Linked DNA regions of Homo sapiens: region 2 is linked to region 1. Evidence: fine-mapped expression QTL. A gene starts in region 1. The other region holds a variant in brackets. All regions are shown on one strand. Distances are from middle to middle. Region 1 holds the start of CERS2 (ceramide synthase 2). Region 2 overlaps GOLPH3L (golgi phosphoprotein 3 like).

Region 1 (3,013 bases):
TTCCAACAGTAATTACTTCTGAAACAGTAATTTTACCACACGACTCAAGGGGAAAACTTTTTTTTTTTAAATTTATAAAGGAGTTGGGGGTCTCGCTATGTTGACCAGGCTGGTCTTGAACTCTGACCTCAAGTGATCTGCCCACCTCGGCCACCCAAAGTGCTGAGATTACAGGCATAAGCCACGGCGCCAGGCCAAGGGGAGAACACTTTTTTTTTTTTTTTCCTGAGACGGAGTCTCACTCTGTCGCCCAGGCTGGAGTGCAGTGGCGAGATCTCGGCTCACTGCAAACTCCACCTCCAGGGTTCAAGCGATTCTCGTGGCTCAGCCTCCCGAGTAGCTGGGATTACAAGCGCGAGCCACCGTGCCCGGCTAATTTTTGTATTTTTAGTAGAGACAGGGTTTAACCATGTTGGCCAGGGTGGTCTCGAACGCCTGACCTCAGGTGATCTGCCCGCCTCGGCCTCCCAAAGTGCTGGGATTACAGGCGTGAGCCACCGCGCCCGGCCGGAAAACACTTTTTAACACGAAATCGAATACGGATAAACGTGGTGTCATTTGAAAACTCATACATTTTACAAAACAAAAGTTGGGGTGGCTCTTTCAGACAGGGCCGCCGGGTGTGCGCAAGTTCGGGTTTGCTCTTCCTTGCCACGGGGGTAGGTCCCGTAGCACCTAGGTGGAAAGGCCGCGGCTTTTACGGCGGGGTAGGCGAGGGTCGCCCGAGTGATCGCAGGCTCCGACTGGGTCTCGAGGGTCGGCTGCTTCGGTCTGCCCTGGAGAGGTTTTCAGCTTCGGCGCGAGGCACTTGGGCAGGATCCCCGGGCTGCACCCTCCTCCGCCCGCGCCCCGTGGGGCTGGAAGTGGGAATGTGCCCACCCTGGCGGGGACCGGGGGCCGCACAGCAGTTGGGGGTGGGTGGGGGTGGGTAGGAGTAAGGGGACAGGGACACCGCCGCTCGGAGCCCGGGACCCCGCGGCATCCAGTGCGTCTGTGTCGGTCCCAGTGGGAGACCTCCCACCCCGAAAAGAGACCGAAGTGGCGGAAGGAGCCCGCACCCGCCTCCCCAGGTCGGCGGTTTCTCTAGCGCAAGGTGACGGGCGTGGACGCGGCTGTGGGGCCGGGAGCGGAGGGTTGGGGTCTGGCCTCCCGCGCCGGGGCGAAGGGGCAGCCGCAGCGCAGAGGCCCGCCCCGCCCTCCCCTCCCGTCACGCCCAGCCTCCCGGCCCTTGGGCTGCTCGCGGCCTTTTTTTCCCGGCTGGGCTCGGGCTCAGCTCGACTGGGCTCGGCGGGCGGCGGCGGCGGCGCCGGCGGCTGGCGGAGGAGGGAGGGCGAGGGCGGGCGCGGGCCGGCGGGCGGGCGGAAGAGGGAGGAGAGGCGCGGGGAGCCAGGCCTCGGGGCCTCGGAGCAACCACCCGAGCAGACGGAGTACACGGAGCAGCGGCCCCGGCCCCGCCAACGCTGCCGCCGGGTGAGTCGGGGCCCCCGCCCGGCGCCCGAGCCCCGCGCGGGGGTGGGAAGGGGCTGCGGAAAAGTTGGGAGCCCCGGGTGCCGCTTTGTCGCGGGGCCGCGGAGGGGTCGGGCTGGGAAGGCCGCGGGGCCGGGGCGAGGAGGGAGGCGGCGCTGGCGGGGGGCGCTGCGGGCGCTCATGGCGGCGGCCGCCGGGTAAGGCGGGCGCAGCGCCTCAAGGGAGCGGCCGGGGCCGGCGGGCCTGGCGCCGCGGTGTCCGCGGCAGCGCCGCCCTGAGCCGGAGAAGCTTTCCCGGGCAACAGGTAGGGCGGAAGGTGGGGACGCGGGGGCTGCGGGCGACGGGGCCGAGCCGTGGGCTTCCCTTTGTTGGGGAGTGGAGGAGCTTGGTGACCATTGGCGCGAGAGCCTCCACCCTGGCAGCGGCCCGCGGGGTTGCCCTGGCCTGGACGCGTCCTGTGGCTTGGGTGGGAGGAGAGGGGAGGGCCCTGCCCCGTTTTCTTCCTACCGGCCCACCGTGCCCACCTCGCAGGCGAGGTCAGAGCTTCCATGTGCTTAACGGGAAACAGGAAGGAGCGGCCCGGAGCGCCTGCCCCGGCCCGGTAGGGCTAAGGCATACCGTTATGAGGTGTGGATGGCTGGCAAGGGAGCTCCTGGTGGAACTGGCTTTCTGGGCCGTAGCTTGTTAATCACTAGAGGCCCGTGGCAAGTGGGTTGACTGCAGGTGTAGAGCACTCATCTTTAGCCTGCAGTTGGAGTCTCTCCCTCCCTAAGCCTAGCTCCTGGCATCAAAACCTGGTTTCAGTCACCTGAGTTGCCAGGCCCAGGTTCAGGGGGTTCTGAGGATCGTGGCGAATGCAGTGAGCCCCTGTTCCTGGAGAAGTGAGTCCGAGCAGGCCTCCAGCAGGCAGTCACCCCCATATCTGTGCTGGGGCAGGGGTGGGTGGCGGTTGCTGCCGCATACCGGAGTCGGGATGACCGCACCGGGGTGTGAGTGGCTGCACATGTAAAGGGGCTCCTAAGGGTAAGGACTTGCCTGCAGTCCTGTCCCTGAGGACCTGGCGCTGACCATACCGTGATCTGCACAGTCTGTTCCAGAGAGGGATCCTTTTCTCCCCTGGTCCCCCACTTCCCTCACTGGGGCCTCTGGCCAGATTTTCCCCTGGGAGGAAGGGCCTCCTTTTACCCCTGTCACTGGCCATAGGCTGGCTGATCCCTCACTGTGTCCTTCAACACCGCCCCAGCTGTCTCTCAAACCCACCGGCGTCTCCCTGCCCCTGGGGCCATAGTCTCATGCAGTGTTTTGGTCCGTGGAGGCCTTTGGTGGGACTTTGCAGACAAGCTGTAGGCCAGATGAGGCTGAGGACTACTGTTCTGACTGCCTCTCACCCACCTCTTTTTTACAATCTGGCTTATTTTGAGGCCCATCCTGCAGCCTGGAGGGATAACACACCTCTCATTGGCTCCATCCATGGCTTGTAGACTTCTAGTACATGACCTGCTTCTGTTGCCTGAAAGTTTTCAACAAGGAAGACTATTCAGGACTT
Region 2 (2,500 bases), 330 kb after region 1:
TGGCATGAAAATTTCCATTCTTGGGGTATATGACTGTCCTGTTTCCCCCAGGCCACTTTTTTTTTTTTTTTCTTTTGAGACAGGGTCTTGCTCTTGCCCAGGCAGGAGTACAGTAGTGCAATCACAGCTGACTGCAGCCTTGACCTCCAGGGCTCAAGGATCCTCCTGCCTCAGTCTCCCAACTAAGTGGGACTACAGGCACGTGCCACCATACTCAGCTTTTTTTTGTTTGTTTTAGACAAGAGTCTCGCTTTGTTGCCCAGGCTGGTCTTGAATTCCTGGGCTCAAGCAATTCTTCCACCTCAGCCTCCCAAAGTGCTGAGATTACTGGCTTGAGCCACTGCACCCACCCCTCCAGACTACTTTAAATGTCTCTGCTCTGACTGAATTGAAGGAATTGTAAGTTTCAGTTGCTGAATATATCAGTATATCTGAACTCCAGATCTTTTTATTTCCTATTTTTGGCTTCCTACATAAATTAATAAAGTCTGTCTATATTTAAGGTTTCTGGGAGTAGTTTTGTCTATATTTAATCCATAGATGTGCTCCTAGTCATCAGTCTTATTTCAGTAAAACCATCTTTCTGGCCAAATCTCTAACACGTTTTTTACTTCAGTAGTGAGGGCAATGAGAAGCTTTATTAAGAAAGATCCTATTTAAAGGGCTAATTTGGTATTGAAAGCATGCTGATATAAAGTCCAGTATTTGAGGATATAAAGAGGATGTGCACTGAGCTGTGCTGATGTTCAGCATTTATTATACTTTAATGGGATAGTGCTTCTTGACCATTATAGAACAACAAACTGTCAAAGGGTTAATACAGATGACCCAGACCTGACATTAAATCCTCTTGATTAGAAATAATTAAATGAATTATTTATTCATTTCTCTCCTCTGCCAAATCTACTTAGCCCCACAAAAATGCCCCAGCTCAGTTAACATTTTTTTGTTTTTCACTTTAGGTATCTCTTAGGCAAATAGAGATATAAATTGTAATAGGAAACAGTCTCTAAATGTGAGGCTGAATACAGCTTCAGTCTGGCTCTCTAATAGGACAAAAGCCAGTCCATGTGTTGTCTCTAACTGATTTAGCTTTTTCTTTTCTTTGAACAATTCGGCATGAATTGAAACCAGGTTTTCCTGTGGAAAGTTATAGCTTGATTGGGAGATAGAAGTTGAATTGAGTTCTTTCTTGCAACTCTTAGTGTTTATTTTTATATCTCAGTAAGACGAGGATACCTTCAGTTTGAATCTGCATAATGTTCACTGCCAAACTCCTTCTCATTTAATGCTTATGGCCTTCACATTTCTGTATAATAAAGATCAATTATCAGCTCTCTGGTCTCTCTGTGCACAATTTTATAATTTAAATTGTTTTAATTGGAACTAAGGACTTTCTACACAAGGCTA[T/G]TAATGCCTCCCCCTTTACACTAGCATACCAGCTTGTTTTATCCTATGTAGAAAATGAGGGATACAAAAACAATTGTAACATACATAGGCTGAGGGGCAGGACATGTCAAAAGCTGACCACATGAACACCAGCTAATACTATAAAGCCTAAATAGTGTCTCCATCTCAATCAAAATAAATTAGCCAATTATACCATTATTACCATGAAGAGAATGAATATGATCTGTTCTACTAATATCTACTTGCAAATGACACCTGAATTTAGGAGTTGAAAATCTTAAGTTCCAAATGTAGGTGACATGCCTGACTATAACAGAGTTAACATGTAAAAATGTAAGTGTGCTTATAATTGGCTTATTGTTCTCCCTTTCTTTATCTATAGCACAAGGGACAATAATACATTTGTTTATTAGGATTGTTTATACTTTTCTAATATTTTTATTTAAGACAAAGTACTATTTCCATAAGTCATGCTTTATACAATGTTTCTCAAAGTATATTGCAAAGACCATTGCACCAAAATGTGTGTGTGAGATAGGAGGGTAGCTTGCTAAAATGCAGATCCTAGTAAATCAGTCTCTGGAGTTAGGAGGAAGCTGCATTTTAAAGAAATTCTCAGCCAGGCGCGATGGCTCATGCCTGTAATCCCAGCACTTTGGGAGGCCGAGGCGGGCGGATCATCTGAGGTCAGGAGTTCAAGACCAGCCTGGCCAACATGGTGAAACCCCATCTCTACTAAAAATACAAAATTAGCTGGCCATAGTGGCGCACTCCTGTAATCCCAGCTACTCAGGAGGCTGAGGCAGGAGAATTGCTTGAATCTGGGAGGCGGAGGTTGCAGTGAGCCAAGATTGCGCCTCTACACTCCAGCCTGGGCGATAGAGCGAGACTCCGTCTCAAAAAAAAAGAAACTCTAAAAGCTTGCATGTTAAAATTGGAGAACGCCACCCTATATCTTATTGTCTATAATTCATTCATCAAAAAAATATTGAGTACTTACAAATTGATGGGCACTTGCTAGGCACTGACAATAAAACATTGCATAGGGCACCATTCTAGCTCCCAAGAATGCACATTTATGTGGGCAAAT

Evidence for each region.
Region 2: its variant is fine-mapped to the expression of CERS2 in lung (TOPMed, PIP above 0.99).

The regions. Positions count from the first base shown.
Region 1 is chr1:150,973,076-150,976,088 of GRCh38, reverse strand. It overlaps CERS2 (ceramide synthase 2), which reads left to right and starts at 1,254. Exons shown (of 11, transcript NM_022075.5): 1 at 1,254-1,470. RefSeq lists silencers at 950-1,389, 1,410-1,899, a cis regulatory region at 2,075 and enhancers at 2,003-2,147, 2,105-3,013.
Region 2 is chr1:150,645,067-150,647,566 of GRCh38, reverse strand. GOLPH3L (golgi phosphoprotein 3 like) reads left to right here. Exons shown (of 5, transcript NM_018178.6): 5 at 1-1,337. Among named protein-coding and RNA genes, the nearest start is that of ENSA, 17 kb to the right of the region's middle. RefSeq lists an enhancer at 201-702. The variant T/G (reference allele first, on the strand shown) is at 1,411.